2 separate regions of the Homo sapiens genome follow, and region 1 is linked to region 2. The links come from fine-mapping of genetic effects on gene expression. A gene starts in region 2. The other region holds a variant in brackets. All regions are shown on one strand. Distances are from middle to middle. Region 1 overlaps ARHGAP44 (Rho GTPase activating protein 44). Region 2 holds the start of ELAC2 (elaC ribonuclease Z 2).

What was found.
Region 1: its variant is fine-mapped to the expression of ELAC2 in whole blood (INTERVAL, PIP 0.97). The same link has a PIP of 0.9 or more in iPS cells.

Annotation. Positions count from the first base shown.
Region 1 is chr17:12,989,056-12,997,713 of GRCh38, forward strand. It overlaps ARHGAP44 (Rho GTPase activating protein 44), which reads left to right. Exons shown (of 21, transcript NM_014859.6): 21 at 977-2,588. The coding sequence ends at 1,116. ELAC2 (elaC ribonuclease Z 2) reads right to left here. Exons shown (of 24, transcript NM_018127.7): 17 at 7,492-7,630; 18 at 6,885-6,923; 19 at 6,648-6,757; 20 at 5,908-6,007; 21 at 5,709-5,829; 22 at 5,370-5,448; 23 at 4,632-4,776; 24 at 2,557-3,990. The coding sequence ends at 3,763. Among named protein-coding and RNA genes, the nearest start is that of ELAC2, 25 kb to the right of the region's middle. The variant T/C (reference allele first, on the strand shown) is at 3,702.
Region 2 is chr17:13,013,550-13,023,851 of GRCh38, forward strand. It overlaps ELAC2 (elaC ribonuclease Z 2), which reads right to left and starts at 4,478. Exons shown (of 24, transcript NM_018127.7): 1 at 4,154-4,478; 2 at 3,522-3,572; 3 at 3,313-3,383; 4 at 2,219-2,283; 5 at 890-947. The coding sequence starts at 4,398. RefSeq lists enhancers at 3,794-4,294, 3,806-3,915, 3,936-3,995 and a silencer at 4,516-4,595.

The DNA.
Region 1 (8,658 bases), 25 kb before region 2:
CATTGCACTCCAGTCTGTGTGACAAGAGCGAAACTCCACCCCCCCCAAAAAAAAAAAAAAAAAAAAAAAACTAAGCAGGCGGAGGAAGGGGACAGCATGACGAGAGTAAAGGACCCAGGGGATCTGTGGTTTTCTGGCTCTCTGGCTGTAGCACATCCTGGAGGAGTCAGCAAGCACAGCCTCGTCAGTGTCCCCCAGGGCGGCGGCTGCAGCAGCAAGGGGATTTTTTTTAACGTGGTGTGGCAAAGAGGCTTCGTGTCCACTCAGCTGCCAGTCTAAGGACTTCTGTCGTCTTTGCCGACTCAGAGACGTCCAGACACTGAGCTGTTATTTCAAGTACATTTCTCCTGTTCATCTTGCCGGGAAAAATGACCTTTTAATGCTCCTAATAAATAAGGATGTAACCAGAGGTGGGGGTTGTCCTGCAGTCAGGGACAGTTGGCACCAATGACAACCAGGGTCCTGAGGGAGACCTTCTACTCCACCCATGTCAGCCATCCAAAATGCAGCTGTTTCTTAGAGTGAGGACACTGGCTCAGGGTTCCCCATTCTCTCACAGGCTTGAGAGGAGAAAGGGGTCCACTGTCTCACGTCCTGTCCCTGCAGATTCTGGGGAATGAAATGCAGTCGTCTGATATAGATCCCCAAAAAGGTGTCATTGAGACCTACTCAGCATCCTTCTTATCAAGAATAAAGGACCCTGTGGCTTGGCAGGGGAGTGCTGTTCTGGCCTTCCTCTGAACCACAGTGGCGTATCCTGGGTGCTTTGGTTCTACGAACTTATGGGGTAGAAGCAAAGCAGGCATGAGCACAACCTGATCGACTGTGCAACACAATGCTTAAACCAACCTCCAAATGATCTATCCCTAGAATAGCAGCACCCCTGCCTCCTAAGGCTGACATTATTTGCCTACAACTAGGTTCTCATTTGCCGGGAAGCCTCCTTTCAACCACCTCTCTCTCTGCCGCCTTCCAGATCTTGTCCACTTTGATATTCCCTCGATCCACATAGAGCTCGGGTCGACGCTCCGCCTGAGTCCCCTGGAGCACATGCGGCGACACTCAGTAACTGACAAGAGGGACTCGGAGGAGGAGTCTGAGAGCACCGCCCTCTGACATGACACCGCCCATCCTGCCTCGCGTGTACATACATCACGGGCCCTAGGAACGCCGCCAGGAGCAGCGTCCATGAGCTTGCCAAGTGTTCTCTGCTGGCTCTTTCCTGCCACTGCCAACACGAGGTTGGAATTTGGCAGAAAATTGTGATCTCCAGTCCGTGTGGTGATGCTGGTGGTGCAGGTTTTGTTTGTTCCTTTCGGGTGGTGACTTCGGCCTTTTGTTTGACCTTTGCCTTTTGACTTTGTGCCTCTTTTGATCCACTTTCAGCCTCCATGCCAGAAAACACCCACCTCTCCATCCAAGGCTGGTCAGGAACGTCCTTTGCAGGGTCGGGGTGGTGCGGGAGAGGCTCACTTTGCCTGGTTAGACCCAAGGGCTGCTACCTTTTCCTTGGACGGCTCATGTCAGGTCTTGCAGGATCAGTTTAATGGCCACAGAAAGGAAGCAGGACAGCAGGGCCCCTCTCACCCACAACTGGACCAGGTCCAGGATTCTAGCAGTCCTGGGGCACTGACCTTTGCCAGCTACCTGGGGGAGGGCTTGCCACTGGAAAACCTTTCAGGCCGCCCCCATCAGTGGGCTCCAAAGTAAATGGCTGAAAACAAAAATGTTTCACTTCCTAACAGTTTTCCTTTTTCCACTGTGTGACTGAAAGCTCCTATATCATTTTATATTTCTGAATCTATAAAACAAAACAAACAAGCCTGACAGTGTCTGGAGGAGCCAAAGGTGGCCTCCCTGTCCCCAAATATATTGGCTATATGAGAGTAATTTTACCCCTCTACGTACCTAAAGGCACCCAGTTCACTAGTCTGTGGGGTCCTGGAGCCTGTCTCTTCTTTCTGGAGGTTCAAACTGAATAGCAATAATTACGTTACCCAAAGCATGTGGAGGAAAAGTGAAACCAGCCACGGAGACGCTGGCCCACGGGCTCGGCCTGCGGTGTGGCCTGCTTTGCTCACCAGCGTCAGCCGCTCATTTCCTTCTCATGAAGTCCCATCTGGTCATGGGGACGAGGGCCGGGAGGGCACCGGGTAGCCTTTTCACACTTGGGGATTAGGGGAGTGAGAAAAGATTTGGGCCATGCATGCAAAGTCAAAGTTTAAAATTTTATCCTTTTCAAATAGATGATATAATATACCTATACATGATATAATATTTGTATATATGAAATCTCTCTATATTTGTTTAATTTGAGCCATTCAATCTAAACCAATGTACAGGTGTACAATGAAAAATTTAAATGCTTAGTTATTTTTCCCAACACAGTGTAAAGTCACCCTCCTCTGAGAGTGGGATGTGCAGAGTTTTGATGTTGCAGCTTTGCTCACTTCCTGGCAAGGGCAGGTCATGCCTCAATTTGTAATGGGAGTCTGGGGTAAGGGTGGGGGTTGAAAGTTGTTATCTTTAAATACATGTACAAATCGTTGTCAAAAGTAACGTTATTAAAATAGATTTATTATCCCTGAGCTTGGCATCTGTTCTTGCTTTAATAAACCTGCGGGGACATGGCCGTCAATCTCAAATGCACACCGGGATGGAGCCTGAAGGTCACCACCTGTGTAAAGCCAGGTCCCTGGCTGATCTCTCGCTTGCTTGTCTTTTGAGTTTTTAAAGCTCTTCTTTTTACATTCTCCTGGGTAGGGAATATACACAATAAATACTAGATTCAACTTACTTACTTACTTACTTACTTTACTTACTTACTTCCTTGGAAAATGCTCTCCATTTGTCGAGCACTAATCCACGTCTGTAAATCCCGCAAGGAGGACAATGGAAACCAGCCCCGTGTGCCATTTCTCAAAACCTTCGAGGGCAAAGTGATCCTCACTCCTCTCAGTATGGAAGCAACAACACAGCAAATCTATTGTCTCCACTTTTACCCAGAACCACCAGAAGACTTGCATTTCCCTGACCAATGACACCAGCCCAGCCAGGCTCTCACTGATTGATTTGATTGATTGATTGATTGATTGATAGAGAAAGCACGCCCTGCTGTGAGCTGGCACAGCTCGAGTTGTCAAAAAGACTTGGCGAATAAGGGTGGCTCTCTGAGGACAGGTTCCAGAGGTGCTCACTACGACGGGAGCTGACTTCTTCCAAGCCACCCGGGTACCAGGCAGCTGCCACACTACAGCACAGAGAGCCTTCTCCAAGGTGGTGCACAGCAGACCCTGCTCTGTAGCAGCAGCAGGAGGAAGCAAAAGAACTCACAATTGCAAACTCAATCTTTATTGCAGCTGAAATACTATTTTCGTTAAGTCTCGGACACTTAGACCCACTGATCCTGTTACTCTGCTTGTCTCTGGTGTGCAGGGAATCACTTTGCTGGATTAGAGGAAAGGTGCCGCCGTCTGTTTCCAAGACTTCTTTAAAAACTGCCTTGAAATGAAATTAGTTCATCTGCTTGCTTCCGTGTGGCAGCCTCCTGGCCCGCGGCTGTGCCAGGCACCAGTCCTAAGAGGCATCTATAGACTAGTGCTTATGTGGGAGCCCAAGCCTCGGCACAGCTCCATACCACCTATCCTGAGCTGCCTCCTGGGGGACCGTGCTCTTCAGCTTCTACCAGCAAGGAGGGCAGA[T/C]ACGGGTGCGTGCGTGGGGCAGAAGACACACAGCCTTCTGAGTTCAGGGTCTCCCAGATCTTCACTGGGCTCTGACCTTCTTGGCCTGTGGCTCCTCTGTGTGGGCCCGCTTCTGCTGAGGCTCCCCATCCTCCAGGCCGCCTGCCAGCTCCCTGGACAGGAGGGCCGCCCGCACCTGCCGCAGCTCCCGCTTCTCCCTGCGCTCCTCCATCTCCTCGATGTCGCCAGCAAACAGGGCTTTCAGTGGGGGAATCAGCTTGGGCATTGTTGGAAAGTCTCCAAAGCAGACCTAGAAGACACAATAGAAGACAAGGACATGTCTCAGAGGGGCAGGGGTGGGGGACAGGAGCTGGAAGGGATGCAGTCATGTGCTCACACAGCAGCGCCAACGCCCCTTCCTTGGCACAAGCCAACAGGCCACAGCTGAAATGGAAAAAAGAATGGCATGGAGGGAACCCTCTAAAGGGGCAGAGGCTCCCCAGGCCTGGCTAAGGGCCTCCGGAGAGGGAAGGGAGAGCAGTCCAGATGCTCTCAAAATCAAGCTCCTGAAAAACGAGGCCTGGCTCCGGCTCTGCCCCTTCATTCCGGAAGGCCAAGGGTCAGGCCTGGCTTTCCCACTCACAAGAGGCAACCACCTGTCTCACAGGTCTGTGCTGAGGCTCAAATGCCATGACTGTGTGAGCAGTCCAGGCCTAAAAGGATTCTCAGAAATTTCCAGTGAACTGAGACTGAAGACTAGTTGGCCCCTGCAGGAGGTGGGTCTCACCAGCAAACCCAGGGTGGTTCGACCTGGTTAGTGATGGGTAGATAACCTTTTCCCACGGTGGCCCCAAATAAGAAAGCAAACTCCAGCTGACCGTCCTACTCAGTGTGTAGAGTCCTGTCTCCCTGCCCCGTCCCCGCCCTGTGCTGTCCGTGTGACATACAGACCTTCATGTGGTCAAAGGCAACTCCCACTTTCTCGCTGAAGTTGGGGCTGAAGAGGGGGACCTTGGCATAGCGCTGGCTGAAGTGGTTCAGCATAATGAACTCCGCGTTCATCCGCATCCCCACGCTGATGGCTTGGGACGTTGTGCTGCAGGTGAAGGACAGAGCAGACTGAAGCTGAACTCAACTGCAAGACTGCAAAGCAGACAGTGGCACAGACCCTGGCCATCAACTGCCAGGGCACCCGGGGAAGCTGGTGGGTTTTCTTAACGGGCACCTCCGTAGCCAGCACAATCTCCCCTGAGGGCCAGAGCCTTCGCACACACCCCTGGATGAAGCCCACCCTCTGTGCTGGCTGCCAAATCTGTCCATGAGGGCACCCAAGAGAAACCACAGGGCCCACCTGGGGTAATGCACTCTTTCGTTGAAATTAGCAGCCAAAAATTCAGTCCCCCAGCCCCCGCCTTCCCCTGGCAATTCCCTGACATGGCTTATAGTTTATTCAGCCGATTTCTAGATGCTTTCAAAAAACTGTGCCTCACTCTAGAATCTTGCTTAGAAAATTCTGCAAAAATAAAGGCCAAGAGCCTGTGAGCACTGCCACAGGTCAAGGAAGCCCCCATAGCCCTTGATAGGAAGCAGGGCAGCCCCACATCAGTGGAGACAAACGACGGCTGCTCAGTGTCACGTAGTGGGGGAGGGAGAGGATGTGGGCGACAAGGACTGACCGGCCTTTGCTACCTGTGTGTCTTTTCCACTGCTTCCTCTTCCAAACCATCTTCCAGGGTGGCTTCATGTATCAGGAGGGTGGCATCTTTCCCTGGAGAAGCAGCACAAGGATCAGGGCAGAGTTCTCTGCGAGAGCGGCACACAGGCCTCAGTCACGTGCTGTTTCCTGGTCTCAACACTCAGCTCCCCTGGCCCTGGGTCTGCCTACTAGGATGACAACCAGAGACTCTGAGGGTGGGGACCTGAGTCTCCTGCCTCTGCTGACGTTTCCCTGCAAGCCCACCTGCATTCACCTCCAGCTACACAAACCCCAGAGCAACCTCAGGGTGGCTTGCTTCTTCCTCTACTCACCCATCCGGACCAGAGCCTCGCAGGGCATGGTGTCCCCGGAATAGACCACTTTCCAGCCAGAGGTGTGCACCAGCGCACAGCCAAACGCATGCTTGCAGTGCCGCACCAGACAGGTCTGAAACTGAAAGGGTGGGGCTGGAGGGCTCTGCAGCTCTGCTCCCCACCTCGCCCCCATGATGCCTGCGGCTGTGCCCCTTACCTCTTCCAAATCACATGTTCGCAACAGCGAACTGATCAATCTTTCCACTGCAGGACTGGAGATCTCAGCCCCTTCCTGAAGGCATTTGGCAGGAATCATACTGTAAAAAGACAAAACATTTAAAATGATAATAAACGTTTCTTGGACATCTGGAACCAAAGTTTAAGTCTTTGGCTGGAGAACCCCAAAATCATTCTTAGGAGAAAACATGAGTTAAATCATAGTCACTATGATGAGGAAACAGCAGTCAAATATAAAGAGCCAAACCAAAGCCTCTAGGCCACTGGGAGAAACCCAGCAGGTGAATGCTGCCTCCGGCTCAGGCAGCACGGGCCACGGATGGCTCCAGCAGAGGGGACTCCTTCCCCTTGGGGTGAGGATGGTGCCACCTGCCAGCTAGCCACACACCTGCTATGGACATTCTCTGTGCTAGCCACTATTTGGGTGCTTGGCTCTGGAACTGTCTCATCAAGAAAAGCTGCTCGAAGTTTAGAAAGCAGCTCAGAACTCAAATGAGGACTGGGAAGAAATGCTTCTAAGAAAATAAGCATTACATGGGAACTATCTAATGGTTTCTGTCCTTCAGCCAATGCACTTCTCCCCTGCTTCTGCCATCTGGGACCATGTCAAGGGCAAGGCTGCTGGGGGATATTGGTAACTACCCCAGTGTCCACCTTGAGCTTCTGAAGGAGACGGCAGCAAGCAACAGCCCAGCGGGCCAGGCTGCCCTGGATGCTCACCTGATGTGGTGCAGGACCTCCTGGCACTGGTTGTGGTACTGCTGGAGCCAGGCTTTGAGCTGGTTGGGGGCAACCACCAGCAAAGGGTGAAGCGGCTTTCCCAAAGATGCCTGGAACAAAAAATGCAAGTGCCGACTCGACGACAGAACATCTCAATAAAAACTGGAGTGCCAAGAGGCATGGCGGATGATGTGTAAACCGCTGAAACTCAGAACGCCCATCAAGTGCCACACTTACCAAGGCGCGTTCTCTCTGCAGCAAGATACTTGGCAAGCCCTGGCAAGGAAACAGGAGACATGCGTCAGCCAGGCCCCAGGGCCATCCCCTCCGGGTTAGGGTCTGCAGCCCTCTCTCTTGCAGGAGTTGCCAGCCCGACGTCACCCACCAGCCTCTAACACAGCCGCAGTGGGGGTGGCACAGGCCGAGCCCCCTGCGCCATGGCCCTGAAATGTCACAGGCAGAAAGCGACACGACCCGTGCTGGGAAGAGGGCAACGGCCCAGGGCCCGGCACCCCAGGAGACCAAGGTGAGGGTCTCATAGCCACACCTCCTGCATCCGGTCAAAGCTTCCGCTGAGCAGGCCGTGTGAGATTCAAGACTCAAGGAAGGCTGGGTAAACTCAAACCTGTCCTGCTGCAGGAAAGGAACTGAACAGGAAGAGAAGACATTCTTGTGGCGCAGAAGGACTATGTTGAGTTTTGCAAAAAACCATTTCCTAGCCAGAGATGAGTAACAAAAGCTCTGGGCAAGTTTGGAAGCGGAGGAAAAGACGCAGCCAAAGGGCCAACTCAACGTGGCAGTGCCTCCTCCAGGCTCCAGCTTTGTGGTCCAGCCCAACACTCACCGTGTGGTGATCTGCGTGCAGGTGGGACACAAACACAGCAGCCAGGGTGCCCAGGACCCTGTCCACCTGGTCTCCGTAATGACGGCACAGCTGCCCAAATGTGCCCTCACCACAGTCCAGTAGCAGAGACGTGTCGGGGCTGCAGAAGAGAAGAGGAAGAGAGTCACTGCCACTAGGAAGACTGCTGATGGTTCAGAGGCTGATGTCTGCTTTGGACAGGACCAAGAAGCAACTGCAGAAATTTCTGTCTCTCCTGCTTTGCTTTGAGGAGCTAATATAAAAGCCAATTAATTTAACCATAAAGGTGATTTTACATGTGTCATCCTCTTTATAGCAAAGAAGTATCCATGGAACCCTGAAACCCTTTCAAGTAGACTTACACAAAGGCTGGGCATCAAAAAAAAAAAAAAAAAGTTTATAGGAGGCTTAAAGCATTTAGTCCTAACAATGAATCTGACCATGCAGATTGACTGTGGCCACAGCCTCTGTTGAAAATACCAGGACAGGCACTGGGCCATATGAGACTCTTTCTAGGTCCAGCTGCCATCGGACTTTTCCCCCTTTGCAAGTGGTCGGGGTTTCCTCAGCTCATGTCCTCAAAGACACCTGGTGCAGGGCGGGCTGCAGGTGCTTCATTCAGGGAGCCAGTTAACGCAGACTCCCAGGTGTCACTCGGGGTTTCTGACTTGGTTTTAGGCAGGGCTCTGGAAGTCTGGATTCTGACAAACTTCTTGGGCTATTCTGCTGTGCAGTCCATTTCAGAAGCTCTGCTCCAAGGCAGAGAGAGTGCTGACCCGCTCTGGCCTCCTTCATTCTCTGGGAGGAGCCACGAACACTGAGAGGGCTGCACCCATTTTGCAGAGAGAAGCCCCGGTGCTAAGACATTACCTTCTGGGGGAAAAAGGAGTCGGGAGGCGGAGGCAAGGTGGCAATAGCACCTTCCCATTAGCTTCAGCTGGTTCAAAAGCTGCTCGCAGGGTGTCAGGTCAAACTCAAAAAGCCCTTCTTCCCCCAGGATCTCAGCCCCCGGGAGAGGCCGGCTCACTCCAAGCTGCTTTATTGCATGTCCTCATCCACAGAGAAACACACCCCAGATTGTATATTTCTGATGTCAGGGCACATCTCGTCACTGCTGTATATATTTAATGCACTATTTGGTTGTTTATC
Region 2 (10,302 bases):
AACTTTCAGAGACCCAAGTTAACAAACAGAATAGTGAAGCCAGGGAACCTATCATCGCAAACCAGAAGAGCTGATGTATATTTTGAAACAAAGTATTAGTGTTTCTATAAAAGAGGAGTATTAACAAGCCACAGATACACACCAGTGCCAGGACAAGAGCCCTACTAGCATCCTCAGTGAGGCCTCTTCCCATCAAGAGGCTGTAAGCCCCCCTGCGCAGCTGGAGCTGCGTTTCAATGTACAAAGTTGGCCACAAAACCTCTAGGGAACCCTTGTCACCCCCGCCCCCAACTCAAAGCAACTCAACGACGAGAAGCACCTCTGGAACTGAGGCAGGAGCCCTGCCGTCTGGATGGAGAATGCCACACAGCATGTACACAGGCAGGCATCAGCTGTTCAATCACTCCTGCCGACCTGGCCCCTATTTTTACAGCATGAGGTGGGAACACAGAAAATGTCACTATTTAGAAATCCCATCTCCAGCCACATGGTAGCTCATTTTGGGAGGCTGAGGCGGGCAGATCACAAGGTCAAGAGATCGAGACTATCCTGGCCAACATGGTGAAACCCCGTCTCTACTAAAAATACAAAAAATTAGCTGAGCGTGATGGCATGCGCCTGTAGTCCTAGCTACTCAGGAGGCTGAGGTGGGAGAATGGCTTGAACCCAGGAGGTGGAGGTTGCAGTGAGCCGAGATCATGCCACTGCACTCCAGCCTGGTAAGAAAGCAAGACTCTATCCAAAAAAAAAAAAAAAAAAAAAAATCTCGTGGTGATGAAGCATTTGATTTTGAGGTTTGATGTTGATGTTTTTAATGGATTCTAATTTGAGAGGTCAGGGCATATATAAGTTAGAAATAGCAGAGGATGAGTCACAGACAAAGACGTACCCAGTTCTATTCCTTTCAATGGACCAGAAAATATTTTGATTGCTTCGAGGTATTTTTCCTAATGAAAAACAAAGAAATGAGCAGTTATGGTTGAACAAATGTAGAACACAGCAACTATTCAAGTATTTAAAAGGTTACCAATAGGTATCAACATAAAACAAAGCTTAGTAAATATTTTGAACATCATTTATTACAAATATTTACTGAGTATCCATTATATCAGATGCCAAGGATATAGCAGGAAAAAGAGATGGAGGCCTTGCTCTAATCAGGCCAGTGGAGGAGACAAAAGGAAACACGATAACAGAAACAGCTTAGTGGCATTATGCTAAGTGCTCTGCAAGGAAAATGAAAAATACAGAAGGCTGGGATCCAACTTGTCTAGAGAAGAAGAGGCAGTTCTGGAGTAAATGACCCTCTAGCTGAGCCCTGAAGGTTCAGTAACAATATAGGCAGCAATTAGAAGAGGCAGAGGGAACCCGCGGAAGGGCGAAAGTCCTGAAGTGGCCAGGGAGTTAGAGGGACATAAGAGTCAGCCCATGCAGCTGCAGTTCAGCGATGGGTACAGATGGAAGTGTGGGTAGCGGCCGGGGCCTACAGGACTTGTAGGCCATATCAAGGTGTTTTGATTGTATTGCAATGGGGAGCCCATGAAGGGCTTTAGGGTGGCAAGTGACACACTACTTTTCTGTCTTGAAGTGACCTCTCTGGCTGCTGTGTGGCAGATGGATTACAGGAAGGCGAGAATGAATATGGGAGGCTATTGTAGTTTACAGGCATAGAAAACAGAAATAAGGAAGGCCTCAATAAGAGACAAATGGATGGATTTCAAACGTTATTTTGGGGAAAGACTTAACAGGTCTTGGTGACTTTCTTCTTAAGGACTGGAAAATGAACTGTTATATTCAACAACACACACACGCCTTCTCAAGAGTGTAATAAGCTGGACTGAAAGGTAAGAAGATGTCAGAAATTTATTGAATAAAAACAAAAGCTGCCCTTTCTTGTGTGCCTACTTGGTGCCAAACATATATCTAATAAAGTGATTTAGTGCTTTATATGTGCTGCTACGTCATTTAATCTTTAACAACTCTATGAAACGTGATAGTCATCTTATAGATGAATAAACTAAAGCTCAGAAAGGTAAAGTAACTTGATCAAGGTCACATAGTTAATCAGAACTCAAGTCTTTTTAACTTGAAAGGGGAAGCGTTTCAACGACCAGGTATCTCTGGAGGGCAGAAGACTGATTTGCAAAAAGGAAAATTCTTGTTACTGATATTACAAAAGGAAAGATTGCTTTTGAAAGATGTGTCAGGAAAGACTCACCAGTTGTGGAGGTCCAGAAAGTACACACTTTGGAAGCCCGGTTTCCTTTAAAGTAAGAATCATTCCTAAAAAGGATGCATAAAATCAGATCTCTCATCAATTTGACCTGTCGTCACTAACAGGAGGAGCACCCCGTACTAATCCAACTATTTATCTACATCTCCACCTTCCAGCTTTGGAAGTACAACCAGGGAAGATGTACAGAGCAGAAGTGATGCCAGCTAGAGGTGTAACAGACACCAAATATTCTTTAAATGCCTCTAGAATGGGCTGAGCTGTCACTAGGGTGAAGCAGCAAGGCACCCAGTGTGCAAAATGTAAGGAATCATGCAAGTGAAGGGCTGGCACCCTAAGTGCCTCACCCTAGTCTCAGCCCTGAGAAGGGAGACTGGTCTAACACTTCACTCCTTCCGGTCCATGCCACCAAGCCCACACAATTTGGCTGCAACACAATCCTGACCTTCCGGTTGATAGACATAAATGACAGGGTAATCTGGACAGTGGGTATGTGTGTGGCTGCCAATGTGCCAATGGCGTCTGCGGTAAACATATTAACTGTAATCACCACTGCTAGACTCTCCAGTTTACTGCCACAAATCTCTGTCCCCGCAACGCAAGAAACTAAGTGGATGGTAACACTTAAGAGGTGGTATCCATATTAAAATCTGTTCTCCTGAGTCACAGCTTTTAATGCTCTGTGCTGCTGCTGACTGGGCTGGTATAAAAAGAATTCCAGGCCAGGTGCGGTGGCTCATGCCTGTAATCCCAGCACTCTGGGAGGCCGAGACAGGAGGATCGCAGAAGTTTGAGACCAGCCTGGGCAACATAGCAAAACCCCGTCGCTACAAAACATACAAAAAAAATTAGCCAGGTGTGATGGGGCACACGTGTGGTCCCAGCTATTTGGGAGGCTGAGGTGAGGGGATCACCTGAGCCCAGAAGGCAAAGGTTGCAGTGAGCCAAGATCACGCCACTGACAAAAAAAAAAAAAAAAAAAAAAGTAGCTGCCCACCCCAGACTTGGAAAAATGGTAAAGCCGGTTAAAATCCCAGAGACTTCCCACCAGCCTCTGACACTGCAAAGAATATACTCACCACTTAAGCCCCCAACATTAGACCAGTGCATTCGTGTCAGGAATATGTTGTCCAGGCGAGCAACCTTTAACCTAAGAATGAAAAAACATTTAAACAGGATAACATGAACAGAACAAGGACCACTTTTGCTATAAAAAACAACTGGCCTCTCATTTCGGCTTTCAAGCCCCGTAATCAACTCCCCCTCCGAAAGCAAGAGACTGACTCACTTGTGCTCCTGCATGAGTCTCTGAACGCCTTCTCCACAGTTGAAGAGATACCTACAAGACAAACATTACACAAGACATTCAGAAGGTTTTATTCTGTAAACTCTCTGACACCAATTAGATGTTTTATTGTAGACTCTGGAAAAAAAAAAAAGAAAAAAAAATTAAAAGTCCACGTTGGACTACCGAGCCACATTTATGCTGGTGGGTTTTGAGCCCTCCTTAGCAGAGGTGGAGAGGAGTGGGGGCCTGTGTGTGTGGGTGCTAGGACAAAATGAGTCCTTTCTCCACCACCGGCTACACACCAGATCTGTCCACCCCACACGCTAACAACGACACACTGGCCTTGGGGTGCACGGAAGAGGGTGGAGCTCCGAAAGTGCTGACAGCCAGGCCGGGGCCCAAGGGTTGGGAAAAGGACGCTCAGACCCAGGCCTGAAGTTCTTCACAGATCCGCAGAAATCACATGGATGCAAAGAATCTCGGATTTCCCACCCACCATAACTCCACGAACCCCCGCAACAGTGAACCACATGTGTGAAGCAGGGAAGCCGAAGCCCTGGGAGGTGCCCCGATGCTCAGAGGCTGCGCCGCACTGAGGGCCCAGCGGGACGGGGCGTGGCTCGTTGACTGACCGGTTGAACTCGGAGAAGACGTAGAGCGCGGCGCCCGAGTCCCGGCTACCCGCTGCCACCACCTGCAGGTACACGGTGTTTGGGCCGCCGGAGCACCCCGACGGTCCGCGCTTCTCTCGCGTGCGCAGGTGCCGCAGCGGGTCCTTGCGCGGCCGCTCGCGGCGGGCGGGTGCCTGCGATATGGTGCGTCCCTGCGACATGGTGCGTCCGGCCGCGGACCGCAGCAGCGAGCAAAGCGCCCACATGCGCCCGTCTCCACCAAAACTGAGAAAGCCGCCGGTCACCTACGCCCGCGTTTCCCGTGCACCACCTAGCCGCTCCGCATGGCGGATCCAGCCAATCAGCGCGCCGTGCACCGAGCTTCCCGCCTACGCGAGGCTGCTCATCCAATAGAAAGGAGCTTTACCGCTCGGGACTTGTCAATTGACAGTGGCCATAGAGTAGAGGAATACTAGAGCGTCTCAAGCGGCCCCGCCCCTAGTTCTGTTCCGGTTTGCCGGCCGCAATTTTTTCCGGAAGCTGTTTTTCTCCTGGGGCGGGACTTCCGGAAGCACAGTGCCAGGAAAAGCCTTCCTGGGGAAGGCGGGACCTAGGAGTTTGGAGTTTCGCTAAAACGCTCCTGTTCTCACCAGATAAGAGCTGTGTCCTCCGGGCACGTCAGTCCCTCAGAGCTTGAGTTAGAGGTGGTTGTAGTGGTTGTGAGGATTAAATGTGAGGAAATCAATTGTATTGAGCATTAGCATAAGCGCTTTGCTAATTTTATTTCCATTGTAATTCGTATGCATACATGTTAGAACTTGATCATTTTTACGTGGTGTCCCGAGCTTGTAGTCCCAGCTACTTGGGAGGCTGAGGCAGGAGAATCGCTTAAGCGCGGAGGCGGAGGTTGCGGTGAGTCGAAATCGCGCCACTGCACTCCAGCCTGGGTGACACCTCGAGACCCTGTCTCAAAACAAAACAAAACAAAACAAAAATTGTAGTGTTTTTTGGAAAGAAAAGCAAGAATAGAGGACAAGCTCTAAAGCAAGAGTCTTGGCTCATTTGTTAGCTGCGTGATCTTGACCTCTCAGAGCCTCAGCTTTCTTATGTGTAAAATGTAATAACAGCAATAACAGTATCTCCTACTTCAGAATATAGAATTCAGTCACCTGATAATATATCAATAGACCTTTGAGTGGCACTGTCACAGAAGAGGCACCCAGTAAATGATAGAAAATTAATACAAAATGTTTCAACTCCTAGACAATATAGCTGACCAGGGACATCACAGAGGTAGATGTCCCAATACCAGCTTTTTGAAAAAAACACCCAGTCCCCTCTTATGTAGCTAATGAGGATTTCTCACTGAAAGGGATATCAGTTAAAGCCGCTAGAAATACAGGGAGCTCCCTTAAAAGAGGAAGATAATTTACCTGGAAGCTCCACTCAAATATGATTTTTTAAAGATAATTTACCTGGAAGCTCCACTGACATATGATTTTTTTAAATAAATACTGAAAGATGTCACTTTTATTCAGGAAGTAAGGGAGATTCAAGTCATGTAGATTCCTACTCGAAAATCTTGACACCTGACTTTCCAGGATCACATTTTCATATGGAGACCAGTTTCCTCTTGGTTTCTTCAGTTAAGTCAAAACTACACGTTCCTCTTTCCCCATATATTTTTGCTCATTAGTGTATTTCTTGAGCTGTTTTCATTCAAATATGAAATTTTTTATGGAAGATTATCACCCACGGTGTGAAAACGTTTTGTACTTGAAATAACCATCCCAGTGAGGGTCAGGAAAACACTTCAGATCTACTTTACACAGTTAGAGGGCGTTACAAACTGAAAAGATTATCATACCACCATCTCCATAAGTATTTGAAATAAAAATGATAGTTTTTAAAAGTTGCTTAAAGCCTGGGCACCGTGGCACATATCTGTAATCCCAGCACTTTGGGAGGCCAAGGCGGGAGAATAGCTTCAGGCTAGTAGTTCAAAACCTGCTCTGTGGCCAGGCATGGTGGCTTATGCCTGTAATCCCAGCACTTTGGGAGGCCGAGGCAGGTGGATCACCTGAGGTCAGGAGTTCGAGACCAGCCTGGCCAACATGATGAAACCCCGTCTCTACTAAAAACACAAAAATTAGCCGGGAGTGGTTGCATGGGCCTGTAATCCCAGCTACTGGGGAGGTTGAGGCAGGAGAATCACTTGAACCCCAGAGACAGAGGTTGCAGTGAGCCAAGATCACACCATTGCACTCCAGCCTGGGTGACAGAGGGAGATTCCATCTCAAAAACAAACAAACAAACCAGCTCTGGCAACAAAGCGAGACCTCATCTCTACCAAAAAATACTAAAAAATTTAAAAATAAGTAAAAATTAGCTGGACATGGTGGCACACACCTGTTGTCCCAGCTACTCTGAAGGCTGAGACAGGAGGATCACATGAACCCAGGGGTTTGAGGCTGCAGTGAGCTATGATCATACCACTTTACTCCAGCCTGGCTGACAGAGTGAGACACTCTCTACAAAAAAAAAAAAAAAAAAAAAAGAAAAAGAAAATTAATTCATTAAAACTACTTTTAAAAAGTGTAGTGCAATAAATAAAATACTGATTTTTTTCCTGTGATGACTGCTTTGATCCTTTTAAAAAATATATCAAATTTCACAAACAAAAATACATTGGTTCCTCTATTTTATTGGTGCCCTATGTGCATATCTATCTGTTGGGTAATCTCAAACTACTTATCTCAAAATTATAGGAGGAATCACTTTTGGTCATCGACTTATATAAAATTCTGAGGGCTGGATGCTATTTAGGTTGTTTCTAGGGCCCAGTGTACTTTCTGCACTTATGCTTTGGGTCATATTTTTATTCCTGGTATATGAAGACAATAGCTAGTACTTCTTCAATCTGAGGTTATACTGGAATGTAAATTTCATGAGCCTGGGATTTGTCTATCTGGTCCTCTGCTGTATCATTAGCTCCTAGGACAGAGTCTGGCTTGTGGCAGACAATAAATACTAGGAAATTAGAAGCAAGCCAGTAGCTTAAATGAGGTTTTCAGTTTACAACTAAGCAGGGCCTAAAATTGAATCAAGACAACAATGTATGTGTTTTCTGAAGGGGATTGGTGTGACTGGTACCTCCAAAAGGATAGTTCAGAGAGTCTGAAACAGAAAAGTGTCTCTGGACTTGCTGGAGTAGAGGCAGCCTGACCATCGGGACAGCAGAGAAAGTGGAAATCGAGGCGACAGACTTTCAGAAGTCAGTGATATTAACAATTAATATAATACAGCCACTTCCTCTTGCTTTGAGTCTCTTTTTGTTATCCATTTTGTATATGGGCAGCTTGTGGCTTGAAATCACTTTCAGTCCTTTTGTTGGTCACGGTTGTGTTTAGTAAGAATAGCCTGTCTCTGCTCCTTGCAGTGGCTGCTGGGTGGCTCAATGGGAGTGGAACCTCACACTCACAGGTGTGGGTCCTGGGTACTGGCCCTGCTGGGGGTGCTTTGGTTCATTTCCCATTGCCTCTCCATCCATGTAGACTGTCCACATTCAGTAGTTAGGCTGAGCTTCTCTGAATGGTGGTCAGCCTCCAAAAGGATGAAATGAAATTGCAATGCTTCTGAAGAATTAGGCCCAGAAGTCAACGCAAGACACAGACAGCACCCACCTAGATTCAAAGGGAGGAAAATTATATTCTACCTCTTGAGGGGAGAAGTATCAAAGTCACATTGCAAAAGAGCCCTTGACGTGGAAAAGTCCAGGCTTTCTTGGAACCCTCTGATTATCCTACGGGGGGGTCCTATGAAGAGATGGCTGCCAGGCAGAATAATCTGGCCAATGAATGCTGGGAGCAGTACATTTTCATATGCCTGTAGTTACAAAGGTATAATTTATAACTTGACTTTCTTCTGTACACGCTTGTAAGTATGGTTGCCATAAGCTAGTCCACTCATATGTGGCCATCTCTTGGGTATATTTATAAATCAGACTTTTGTACCTACAAAGCTGGGGCAGTTCCTGCGATCCCCAAGATCTGGTGATCTGACCAAGGGACACATACTTTGGGACCCTGTCTGAAATACCCTCTGGCTTTCTCCACACAGACATTCATTCATTGATTCATTCAGTACACTCACACACACACACACACGAGTTTCTAGACACTCTTCTAGGGTTCTAGATGCTGTACTAAGACCTTGGTGTACAGAAAGATGAACAAGGTCTTGCTCTCAGAAAGCTCAGAAAGTTGGTGTCTTGGGCACAGGGATGGGGCCCCAGGGCACACAGGAAAACATTATAATAGATGCTTTTGTCTTCATTGGGTCTGAGGTGTTTCTGGTTTAGAGCCCTAGAAACCCAACAACTCCAAACTTGATGGCCACAATGCATCAGAGGGATAATTGGTTTTTGAAACAAAAGTTACTTTGGGCTGGGCACGATGGCTCACAACTGTAATCCCAGCACTTTGGGAGGCCCAGGCGGGTGGATGACTTGAGGTCAGGAGTTTGAGACCAGCCTGGCCAACATGGCGAAACCCCGTCTCCACTAAAAATACAAAAATTAGCTAGGCGTGGTGGTGGGCACCCGTAACCCCAGCTGCTCAGGAGGCTAAGGCAGGAGAATCACTTGAACCCGGGAGGCGGAGGTTGCAGTGAGCCAAGATCGTGCCATTGCACTCCAGCCTGGGCAACAGAGCGAGACTCAGTCTCAAAAAAAAAAAAAAAGTCTGCAGTCACGTACAGCAATGTCCTAGACCTTCACATTCACTCACTGATGCACCCCAGGCAACTTACAATCCTGCAAGTTCCATTCATGGTAAGTGCCTTATTCAGGTGCTAATTTCTTTCTTTCTCTCTTTCTTTCTTTCTTTCTTTCTTTCTTTCTTTCTTTCTTTCTTTCTTTCTTTCTTTCTTTCTTTCTGTCTCTCTCTCTCTCTCTCTCTCTCTCTCTCTCTCTTTCTTTCTTTCTTTTTTGAGATGGAGTTTCACTCTTGTTGCCCAGGCTGGAGTGCAATGGCACGATCTCGGCTCACCACAACCTCCACCTCCTGGGTTCAAGCAATTCACCTGCCTCAGCCTCCCGAGTAGCTGGGATTACAGGCATGCACCATCACACCCGGCTGTTTTTTTTGTATTTTTAGTAGAGATGGGGTTTCTCCGTGTTGGTCAGGCTAGCCTTGAACTCCCGACCTCAAGAGATCCACCCACCTCAGCCTCCCAAAGTGCTGGGATCACAGGTGTGAGCCACAGCGCCCAGGTCAGGTGCTGATTTTTTATACCACATTTTCACTGTGTCTTTTCCATGTTTAGATAGATTTAGACACAAATACTTGCCATTGTGTTGCAATTGCCTGCAGTATTTAGTACAGTCACATGCAGCCTGGTTTGTAGCCTAGGCGCAGTAGGTTGTACCATACAGCACAGGTGTGCAGTAGGCTGTACCATGTAGGTTTGTGTTTGTGCCCTCTGTGATGTTTGCGCAATGACAAATTTCCCTAACAAGGCATTTCCCAGAACGTATCCTTGCCATTAAATGATGCATAACTGTACACCGGGAACCAGAAAGAAAGAAGAAAGGAAAGTAGCTCAGCCTGGCTCAGGCTTGGAGCGGTTGCAGCTCTGCCATAATTAATGCCACCCAAGCTTTATTACCTTTAGATCCTCAGGGCCAAGCACGGTGCCCGGGAATTCGTGGAGCTCAGCGAGTCTGTGCTGAGGGCATGGAGCATCTGCCCAGCCCGAGTCGCCCCAGGTTGCCATCCCAAAATACCACAGACTGAGTGGCTTCCCCAAGACTTCAATTTTCTCAGTTCTGGAGGTTGAAAGTCTAAGATCAAAGTGTGGGCAGGGCTGGTCTCTCCTGAGGCCTCTCTCCTTGGCTTGCAAATGGCCTTCCTCTTGCGGTACCTTAATGTGGTCTTTCCTGTGTGCTCACATGCCCTGGTGTGTCTCGTGTGTCCTAATCTCCTCTTCTTATAGGGACACCGGTGAGCTTGGATTAGGATCTACCCTAACAGCCTCGTTTAATTAATCACCTCCTTAAAGGCCCTATCTCCAAATGTAGTGACATCCTGAGGTACTGGGGGTTACGGCTTCAACAAGTGAGTTTTGACCAGCCTGGCCAACATGGTGAAACCCCGTCTCTACTAAAAATT